Linked DNA regions of Homo sapiens. Changing the gene in region 3 together with the main gene of any one other region gives a genetic interaction. Each region holds a gene or a part of one and is shown on either strand. Other genes may lie near its edges.

Region 1 (3,500 bases), on a different chromosome or scaffold from region 3:
TTGGTGTTGGGCAAGGCTCCCTGGATGATCTTTTTTTTTTTTGAGATGGAGTCTCGCTCTGTCGCCCAGGCTGGAGTGCGGTGGTGCAATCTCGGCTCACTGCCAGCTCCACCTCCCGCGTTCACACCATTATCCTGCCTCAGCCTCCCGAGTAGCTGGGACTACAGGTGCCCGCCACCAAGCCCGGCTAATTTTTTGTATTTTTAGTAGAGATGGGGTTTCACCGTGTTAGCCAGGATGATCTCCATCTCCTGACCTCGTGTTCTGCCCGCCTAGGCCTCCCAAAGTGCTGGGATTACAGGCGTGTGCCACCACGCCCAGCCCCTGGATGATCTTAATGAGCATCCAAGGCTGAGAGCTACTGAGCCAGTGTGGCCGAGCAAGGCAGCCCAGTGGTACAGACTACAGGCACCAGAGCCCACCAGATGTGGATTCCTTACCCTTGAACTACAAGACCTTGGACAAGGTTCTTAACCTCTCTGAATCCTAGTTACTCATCTGAAAAATGGGGATATGAGCAGTATCGGTCTCATAATCCCCAGGGCTACTGGGGATTAAATGAGATAATACTTCTGCGGTACTTGGCTCAGTTCCTACTACCCAGTATTATTATTATTACTATTGGAGCTAATCCTGATAACATTATCACCATTATCTATCACTTCTATCCCTCCTGCTTGCCACGTAGCTTCTTCCTTATCATCTAGTTTTTAGTATCAGCAATAAAACATGTTAGTTGCCTTCAAGTCCAACAAGACCATTAAAAAGGAAATCAGCATGGCAAATGTTAGCCAGCTGTTATTCCTTTTATAAATTGAGCCCGCATTTTCTCCCTCACTTGGACCTCACTTGCACAAGGTAAGTGAGGAAGATGAAGTAATCTTTATTTTCTAATTATTTCCCAAAGTAGTGTCTGTGTTCTGGTTGATTGCTCTCCAAATAAAAAGACCTGGCTTCAATTTAGAGGCGCACTGTTGAGATCAGCTTCTTAGAGCAGCCCTGGGTGGTAGGAAGCTGGGTTCCCCGAGGGCTCTCTCTGAAAAGCTTCTACTCTTAGAGACCACCACTGTTCTCATTGGGAGGTCCCCTGATTAAAATGCAGGGGGTCCCAAAGCCCTGCCAGATCTAGGGCGCCCATGCTCTCTGCTCAGCCACTGCATTTAACCAGCTGACGAGGGAGCTGGAGGACTATGTGGGGGACTGGCCATTTCCTTGGGTAATATTTGTAAAGCTGGTATGAACTACTTCACAAATGGAAGACAGAAATACAACCCTTCTTTTATTCTTAAATTAAAAATACACTCAAGCCCATACATGCTAAATTAGCAGAAGATTTATCAGTTCCTCTTGGGATTCCTCATCCCTTCTCCCCAAATTCTCCAATAACACCCAAAGACTTACACTGCCCAAAGCGCAATATTTGGAGGGGCGATGAGCTTCACATCCATGCCTTAGAAGGGAGAGCCTGCTATGGCTTCCCACTGCCACAGAAGGCCCTGTTGATAGCTGGTCCTACCCATCAGACAGAAGGTGCTGGTTCTCTGCTGATCCAGGCCTTGAGGAGTCTCCAAGGCAGCTAATCCCCGTCCTGTGCTAGGCTTGACTAAGGGCACCTTCTTTTGAGTTCCTAGGTAGTGTGGCTTTTGGCACCTGGTTCCTTCAGTCCCACAGGCCCACAACTCTAGGAATGTTCTTAAGAATGAGTGTAGCAGCTGGGCATGATGGCTCATGCCTGTGATCCCAGCACTTTGGGAGGCTGAGGCAGGCGGATCACTTGAGGTCAAGAGTTCGAGACCAGCCTGGCCAACATGGTGAAACCCTATCTCTACTAAAAATACAAAAATTAGCCGGGCATCATGGCATGCACCTGTAATCCCAGTTACTCAGGAGGCTGAGGCAGGAGAATTGCTTGAGCCTAGGAGGCAGAGGTTGCAGTGAGCTGAGATCGAGCCACTGCACTCCAGCCCAGGTGACAGAGCCAGACTCCATCTCAAAATAAAAATAATGAGTGTAACACTTGGGCCCTTGTGAGACCTTGGTCCTGCTGGACATGTCTGTCCCTAGGACAGGGATTCCTTTTTCTATGCAACCCTTCACATATCAAGGATCTCACTTTATTCTCTGTCTTGAACACCAGGGCTTTCTTCACTCTTCCATAAGGAACCTACCTTTAGGCAGTGGTCTCATGGTAGATATGTAATTAGCTTTGGAGGGGGGTCCTGATTTCTAGCATTTGCCAATTTCCGTGATGTACATACTCCCATCAGGGCCAGTTTCAAGCTACCAACTTGCCATCTTTTGTCACAGTGTTGTGAAGAGATGCCCCAATTGATTCTTACAGGCTGGCATGAGCTGGAGCAACCATTGCCTTTGGGGCTTCCAAGTTGGTTTGTCTTCCTCGAGTCATCCTGGTAGATTTCTGCACCTGTCACCCCAGAACAGAAGTAGAAGAAAAATCCAAGTTGATTTTCCACACATCTCCCTATATTTGGTTCTCATTTGTCTTCATGCATTGATTGGCTTCATAAGCATCATAAAGTAGGCATTGGCGAAGGCAATCTTGACATGCCTGGAACAGAAGTTAAGGCACAAAAGAGATACCTAATCCTGTCTTGTCCTTTTGGATGGTGAGGCTTTCTACCAGGTTAAATTCAGAGAAGTGGAAAATAAGGCTTTTAATTGTTGAAAATTGAAACTTTTATTTGTAAATAAATTTCTTTAAAACATCGCATACTATACAATATAAAAAGAGAGCTTTCCCTGAATTGTCTTTTCATATGTGGCTTTATTCTTTTTTTTTTTTGAGACAGAGTCTTGCTATGTCACCAGGGTGGAGTGCAATGGCACGATCTTGGCTCACTGCAACCTCCACCTCCCGGGTTCAAGCCATTCTCCTACCTCAGCCTCCCAAGTAGCTGGGACTACAGGCACACGCCACGACGCCCAGCTAATTGTTCGTATTTTTAGTAGAGATGGGGTTTCACCATGTTGGCCAGTATGGTCTCGATCTTTTGACCTCGTGATCCACCCACCTCAGCCTCCCAAAGTGCTGGGATTACAAGCGTGAGCCACCACACCCAGCCTGTGGCTTTATTCTTATGACATTTTAAATTCATACTTATAGCTCTCTCAAAAGCTGATGGAAAACTGCATTAAAATTTAAAAAGAAACCAATTGATGAATTTCATTTCTTTCTTAGGTGCAAGGGAGCAGCCAAGAGAGAGACAGACACGATGGATACCTTTGTTGATTCTGCTTGGTACTACTTCAGATACACTGACCCTCATAATCCACACAGGTAAAACGTCCCTGCTGATGTCTTTGAGCATTTGTCAGTGTGGCTCCTCCTAGAAGCAAAGACCAAGATGGAATTAGACATGCAAGAGATTTCTTGGGGGGAAATGCCTGTGCAGATTAAAGGGGAGAAGAGGAGGAGTGGGCAGAGAGTGCTCTTAGACCACGATGGAGCTGTGACAGGTGTGAAAGGAGAAGGGAAAGGA
Region 2 (4,242 bases), on a different chromosome or scaffold from region 3:
CATGGTCCAGAAAGAAGAGATGACAGGTGCCAGTCTACAGCGATGGTGAGCAGAGGCCTGGGGGCTTGGCAGGTGGGTTCGCATCCTGGATCTGGCTGTTTCTTAGCTGAGTGACTTTGGGCAAGTTGCTCAACCACTGAGTGTCACTTTGCTTCATCAGCACGATGGGAATAAAAATGCCCACCTCTCAGAGCTGTTGTGATGATTAACTAAGGTAGTGTCTGCAGAGTCTCTGCACTACAAACGGCAGCTGCCATTCTAGAGGGACCACTGCCATGACTTCATGGGGACATTTCCATGGGGAGCCACAGGAGGTTCACTGGACAGGTGTGTATGTCCAGTGTTTAGGAGGTGCTCTTGAAGCAGATCTGTTACTCTCAGGAGGTTCTCTAAGCGCATATGTGACTTTGCCATGTGGGGATGGGGGGCAGGGAATTATAAGCTAGTGTATTCAAAACAGGAGCAGCCCTTGTAAGCAAAGCTGTTCCATTATAGCCAAGTCATGTGCATCTCAGCTCCAAAGGAGAAAGTGACCATTCTCATTGAATTCTCATCGCCACAACCTTGGGACTGCCTGAGATAAGACACTCCACTTCCAGGGCCCACCCTGAGTTTTCACTCACACCCTGGATGCCCATCTCCTTCCCTCACCCTGGCTGACATTCTCAGCCACACTGCCCTCCCCTGGTCTCCAGGGGCTGAATGCTCCCAGCCTCAGGGCTTTTGCCGTGGCTGTGCCATCCATCTGGCCTATCGAACCCATTTGCTCACAGCATCTCACCCCCTGTAATAATTTATTTCCCTCTTTCCTTGTACCCTGTCTGTCTTCTCCCCCAGGGCTGAGAGCTCCAGAAGGAACCAAGGACAGGGAGCCTGTCTTGTCCAGCTCTGGTGCCCAGCAGGAGAGCCAGGCTCATAGGAGGTCTGCAAGTAATGTTTCTGGACGAACTTATGAAAGGCAGGTCTTTTTATACCCATTTCATGGATGAGGAAACTGAGGCAGAGAGAGAGAGAGACAGGCAGACGCACACACCCCTAGACAGAGAGAAACACTCCTGGAGAAAGAGAAAGGGAGGGAGAGAGGGAGGGGGAGGGAGGGAGAGAGAGAGAGAGAGAGAAAGAAAGAAAGAAAGAAAGGAAAGAAAGAAAGAAAGAAAGAAAGAAAGAAAGAAAGAAAGAAAGAAAGAAAGAAAGAAAGAAAGAAAGAAAGAAAGAAAGAGAGAAAGACAGCGCAGCTCCAGCCTGCCTGTATCCAGGGTTGAGGTGGGCGTGAGAGACACACGCAGGCAGGGCTGCAGTTCCGGGCAGGCCTTGGGGGCTCAAGATGCGGCTCCCCAGGGCGAGTGCTGGGGTCCCGGGGCAGGCGGGCGGCTGGAGCCCTCTCGTGGGCGGGCGCAAGGGGCAGGCTGGGCGGGCGCAGGCGGGAGCGTAGCAGCCGCTCCACTCCGCACGCAGGCAGCATCGGGGCAGCAGGAGCAGGTGAAGCAGGCGCGGCTCTGCCCCGCGCCTGGTGCCCCCTGGGCACAGGAGTGCGGCCGGGGGCGGGGCCGAGTGGGCCCCGGTACGAACCCTCCGGGAAGCCGGGCGCGCTGCCTGCCCTTGGCCCGGGGCGCAGAGCGTCACACTGGATCTGGGGAGCATCCTACCCCCACTGTGGACCTCAGTCTCCTCACCTGAGACATGGGCGGCCCCATCCGCACCCTGTAAGCCGCAAGCCAAGGAGGTAAGGGGTGCATCTGAGGTGTCTGGGCGCTATGGGCATTAGGATATAGTAGCTTTTGCTGAGATTTCAGGAGACAAAGCAAAGGGCCTTCCCTATTCTAACCCCACTGGGAGATTAGCATTGTGTGTATGATTCATTAATTTTCCTCTGATTGACTGGGAAGGCAGGCTGCAGGGGGTCCCTGTTGGGGCTTGCAGCTGGTTCTAGTTTTTGTATCTGGAGAGCTGCCTGGGGACAAAATGCAGAGACACCATTTTATTGACCTTGCGTAATAATCTACCCTCCCCCTCATACACTCGCCACCCCCTTGGGTGTGCCTGAGGGACTTGAGGTCCCCTGGTCCTCACTGGTCAGTGTACCCCAAGCCCAGCAGCCCCAGGCAGATGCCCAACACCACCTTTTCAGTGCTCCTCCTCCTCCTGTCTTGGCCCTCTCTGCCAATCCATTTTCTATATCCAAGTGATCTTACTGGAATGGACCTGACCTTGCTGGTCTGGCCCACCACTCCAGCTTCATCATCTGCCACCCTGGAACCTCTTATTCTGCTTACTTTTCCCAGCAGGCTCTGCTCCTTCCTGCCTCTGTGCCTTTGCACATGCTGTTCCTTGCACTTCGAGTTCCCTCCTCTCCCTGTCCCTTTGGCTGGTTGACTCCTCTTCAGCCTTTGAGCCCTGTACCATTGCCACCTCTTCTCTCACCTCCCTGCTCCCTGCTCCTTCTCTGATCTCTCAACTCACAGGCCTCTCTTTCATATTGGTGTTGGCAATGGCAATGAGTTCCATCTGCATTCGTGCTGGTCAGCCCCTCTGCTCTGGGAGGGCCATGACTGTATAAGTCATCTTTGCAGCCCTTGTTTCTAGCCCAGGGCTTGACACACACTTATTGAGTGGGTGAATGAAGCAGTGAGCATTTTCTGGAGCCCTCCCAGCCCAGTCCTTCCACTCTGATCCTGCTTTAGGTGGTTGGTTTGGGATGAATGGTGTTTCTCCACACCACTGGCCAAGCCTTGCTGATGGTCACCCAGAGCCTTGGGTTCTGGCCCATTTGCTGCTTCTGAGTGCAGTGCCTCTGCCACAGGTTCATGCAGCTGCGACTGTTCTTTATCTTATATTGGGCCCTGTGTTTGGCTCTGGAATAGTTTATTTTGCCATGTTCAGCCCCAAATGGCCCTTTTTGCCCGAAGACCATAGTGCTGGAGAAATCTTCCTGCCTTCGAGATCTGGTTCCTAAATAACCAGACTGTAAACTATCAGGTGAATTCACAGCTTGATCTTTTAAATGACCAAATGAGACTCTTTTTTTTTTTTTTGAGACAGAGTCTCGCTCTGTTGCCCAGGCTGGAGTGCAGTGGTGCACTCTCTGCTGACTGCAACCTCCGCCTCCCAGGTTCAAGTGATTCTCCTGCTTCACCCTCCCATGTAGCTGGGACTACAGGCATGCACCACCACACTTGGCTAATTTTTGTATTTTCAGCGGAGACGGGGTTTCACCATGTTGGCCAGGCAGGTGTTGAAGTCCTGACCTTAGAAACTCATCTTTATAAGTAGATCAGATGCACAGCAAGTGACATTCATGACAGCCGACAAATAGATTTTACTGAGCTCTGGTTGATTTTGGCCTTGTGCTCTGCAAAAACTGCCTTAACATAGCAATTGATCATGTAAAAAATACATATGGCCATGATATGAGACTTAAAGAATATCTCAAATAGGGTTTTCTGCTATAGTGTTTTACAAGATGGGGTCCAAGGGCCATGTGCATCAGAATCACATAGTCTACTTGTTAAATACAGATTCCTGGCCCCCATCCTGGATTCACTTAACTACATCTCCTGGTGGAAGGGCCCTGGGATCTGCACTTTCAACATGCTTCTAGAATGATTCTGATGTTTACTGAAGGTTGAGAACTGCAACCCTGTGGGATTAATAATGACTAGAGAATCTGAGAGGTGAGTCACAATGATGTATGTAGTGGTATGGTGCTTCCCATGCAAAACATCCATCATTGGCACTAACACGGGGGAACTCTGGAGTCTAAATTCCAACTCAGTCTTGGCAGGGGGTCCGTTGTGCTGAGGAGGTCCTCGGAGAAGGGACAGCCTGTACCAGGGCATAGAGATGTGGAAGAGTCTGGTGTGCTTGTGAGCTGCACACTGCATCAAGTGACTTGAACATAGTCATGGAGTAGGTTCTGTGGAGGGCACTGGGCACCTGTGACTTTGGCCAGGTATGTCTGTGCACATGGTGGGTAGTAGGAAGAAGCTGGTGTGCTGATGAGCCAGGCTTTGCATACTGGGCAGTCTTCAGTTTTGCCAGGTATCACCTAAAAAACAAGGCTACCAGGGCAGGGAGGGGCTGAGACCAGGAGGGTGCACTGATTGTGGATCCCCGAGGCTTTAGCTCTATCTTGAAGGGAATGGGGTGCCGTGGAAGGACACAAGCAATCCTGTGCAGAGTGGCATTTATTGCTGTCTCCATTAAGATAAAATGTGACAAGGGGCATTCTACCCATGTTCCCTG
Region 3 (3,500 bases):
TTTGCCTTTCTTTATAATCATTATTAGTGTCCTGTTATGGTTATTTGGAACTTTACAATTTATAAAGCATGTTCACATTTATTATTACTTATTAATCCTATGGTAGGCAGGACAAATGTTTGCTTTATTTTGTAAATGAAGTAACTGGAATCCAGACCATATTTTTCCAGGTCATATAGCACAAAATGGTATACACCTGGAAACTTTCATACTGACTAGAACCACAGTTCCCCTTTCCTTCAAGTCAGAGTTCTTTCCACTAAGGGAATCATCTCCAAGTGCAGATTACAAAGAGCAAGACATGTCAATAGGTGAAAAAATTTCCAGTATCCTTGCTAGAAGACCATGCAACAAATATTTGGTGGGCAATAGCCAGGGCTTGGAAAAATTCCTTGAAATCATTGAGGCCCAGCTTTATCATTAGAAAAATAGGGATATAATAGTTCTTAAATGTTCCTAAATGGGGATAGTAATAGTTCAAGGTGTTGTCATGAGGATTAAATTAGATGATGTGTGCAAATCCTTAACCCAATGCCTGATGCAAAATAAAGTGCTTCATCAATATGAACCACTATTGTTTTTTTATATAATAGCAACAGCTGCACTCCAGCATCTGGTCATGCAGGCTGTGCACTCTGCAACTCTAGGGGTTCCATATACATTTTAGTCTGTCTGAATGGTGCCATCTGGAGTTGTAATCTCTATGTGTGGCCATGTGTGGCAATCTTGGCAGCAGCAGTTGTGATGCTGTTGTTCTCCATTCAACTAGCTTCTTACCCCTAAGAGATGAAAGGTGGGATGTATGGGAAATGAAGAGAGTTATAAGTGTAGTAGTTTCTACCATTTCACCATGGAAGGCGACTTTCTCAGAAATATGCATGGAAAGGAGGATTGAAGTGTGGTATTTACTTCCTCCCCATGAATTAATGTCCTCTCGTAAGCCTTTTGACTTTGGATTCAGTTCAAAGAGTCCACCAGCATATTCGCAATCCAGTTCTTTTTTCCTACAGAAGGAAACCAAGGCTTAACTTTATGAAAATATGAAAGTTAAGATGGAGGAAGAACAAGATAGAGATGTTACAGCGGAATCATTTTCAGATGGCAGACGTTTCTTAACTGAGAGTGCTCTGTCCAGGTCTAGAGGCACTGGGCTACTGGCCTCTGGTAACTCTTTTATTTTAATTAGCTGAAGATGTGTTCTTTCTGTATTTTCAGCATCACCCTTCATTGCCAAGTGGAGAATATGGAGAGAAATGTAAATTACCAACTGGTTAATGGACCTGAGCACATTAAGAGCAGTTAAACTTTGAGACTCCCTGGAGACGTATAACCCAGGGACTTGAGTGGGAGGCTGCCTCAGGAAGATCCCTCAATCTAAAAAAAGAGGCTAAGAACCACAGAACATTTTGTACATGGTGGTTTCTATGAACCATAGCTGAGCCATTGCCTCCAAAAGATGCACATGAACATCATTTCTACTTGGGAGTAGATAAAAAATAAGGCGTGTGGGTGAGGATGGTTGTAGGTCTAGGATCATGTGGAGAGAGCTGAGAATAAAGCTATCAAGGAGTCCTTCTTCTTTACAGCCATTGTGTTGCTCTGTGGTCTAGGGTGTGGCCAATGTTTCTTAACCTTGTGATGACCAGGGCTCTTTCACACAGGTCAAGATGTAAGCAGGGAGTGTTGGCCTGGTGGTGAGGTAGTGGAGGAGGTTGGAGGCATTCTTCAGTATGCTTTTTGATTAATTGTATTTTTCAGAATAGCTTATTTTTCTTCAGTAAATTTTGTGATGAATTTTTCAGCTGGCTGTTCTGAGCTTGGGTCCTTTCCCAGGGAAATTCTATCAGATTCGCTTTGTGTTGTGGTGTACATATTCCAGAAAGTGGGCAGAGAAGATCTCCCTTGGGGAAGATACACCCAATCCCTTGGTTATTTAAGAGTCTTTTTTTTTTCTTGCACCTTACCTTTCTGACTAACAACAGGTGCATGCAGTGGTAGGCAGTCAGAAATCCTTAGAGTAAGAATAAAGCTAAAGGAAGGTATGAAAAAGGTATGAAGTTAGAGGACAAGGGAAATCTAGGCAGGCTTAAAGAAATCAGGAAACTAGCCAAAGGAAATGAGGATAGATTGAACCATTGGTTATATTTTTCTTTGACCCCTACTTATCTTTTATTTAGTTTTCATTGGAATGTGAGTTCATGAGGGTGAGCATGGAAAGGACTCTTTTAAGCCCAGATAAGTAAAGTAAGTGTTCTGTGGTGAGGAGAACACTAGATTAGGAGCTCGAAGACATGAATTCTATGATGTTCTTTATCTTTTGTTAGCTTTGCAATCTTCTACAACTCTCTTAAACTTGCTAAGCCTGTATATTTATATATGTATTATAAATAAAATATATATATATGCCAGTCATGCGTGTTTTAAATAACTTTTAAATAGAAAAATAGTCCTTTATAGCTATCCAGATATATACCATTTCTTTTGCTCTTCCCTTTTCCTCAAGTTTCAATATTTCCTATTTTATTATTTCCCTTCAGCCTAAAGAGGTCTTTTTTTGCATTTCCATTAGAATAAGACTATTGACGATAAATTCTCTTAGTTCCTGAAGGATATTTTTACTAGGTTCAGAATTATGCATTGACAGTTCCTTTCTTTCCACACTTTAACTATTTTGTTCCTGTGTCCTTCATAGTTTGTGATGAGCAATCTGCCATTACATTGTTGTTCCTTTTTGTAATTGCTTTCAATATTTTTTTCTTGGCTTTTGGTTTTCAGAATTTGATTATGATGTATCTCTGCATGGTTTTATTTGACTTTATCCTGTTTGTAGTTTTTTGAGACTCTTGAGTCTATAAGTTTATGTCTTTCATCAAATGGGATTTTTCAATTATTATTTTCTCCTTTTTTTCCTGCACCAATATATTCCTCTCCTGAGACTCTGATTACACACCTGTTAGATCTCCCATGCTCTTGAGACGCTGCTAATTTCTTTTTTTGAAATTTTTCTCTTTGTTCTGTAGATTGAACAATTTCTATTGACCTATCCTCAAGTTGATTGACTCTTTCCTCTGTTATCTCCATTCTGATATAATTATTTACTTTAGATATTTTAGTTTCCAGTTTAAATGTTTCATATTTGACAATGACTTCTGTTTCTTGATGAGAACTACCTTTCCATTCATTTTCCAGAGTGTTTACTTTCACCTTATGGGACATGGTCATAACAGCTTCTTTCACGTCTTTGATAATTCCAACATCTGGATGATCTTATTATTGGCATATGATATCTTTCCTCTTAAGAATTAGTCATTTTTTTTCTTTTATGTTGAGTAATTTGAGATTGTATCCTGCAAATTTTGTACATTACATTGTTTGGTCTGAGTTGGGTGTGGTTTGAACCTTTGCTTTGTTCTCAAAGCCTTTGTTATTCTGCTTTGAGTCTGTCCACACCTCTGCCACTCAGGTGAGCTGAGGCCCTTGGCCAGTTCCGTCAGCGAATT

Evidence for each region. A genetic interaction does not mean that the proteins touch.
Region 1: changes in ALK (region 3) and LARS2 together harm fitness less than expected from each alone (positive genetic interaction), as found in Homo sapiens cells (one large-scale study listed by BioGRID).
Region 2: changes in ALK (region 3) and NPY4R together harm fitness less than expected from each alone (positive genetic interaction), as found in Homo sapiens cells (one large-scale study listed by BioGRID).

The regions. Positions count from the first base shown.
Region 1 is NC_000003.12:45,493,076-45,496,575, forward strand, and holds part of LARS2 (leucine--tRNA ligase, mitochondrial), read left to right. Parts: intron 1-2,168; exon of another isoform or gene 2,169-2,425; intron 2,426-3,199; coding exon 3,200-3,298; intron 3,299-3,500.
Region 2 is NC_000010.11:46,463,159-46,467,400, reverse strand, and holds the start of NPY4R (neuropeptide Y receptor type 4), read left to right. Parts: upstream 1-1,442; 5' UTR 1,443-1,723; intron 1,724-2,668; exon of another isoform or gene 2,669-3,515; 5' UTR 3,516-3,671; intron 3,672-4,242.
Region 3 is NC_000002.12:29,911,587-29,915,086, reverse strand, and holds part of ALK (ALK tyrosine kinase receptor isoform 1 precursor), read left to right. Parts: intron 1-3,500. UniProt on the Homo sapiens protein: Neuronal receptor tyrosine kinase that is essentially and transiently expressed in specific regions of the central and peripheral nervous systems and plays an important role in the genesis and differentiation of the nervous system.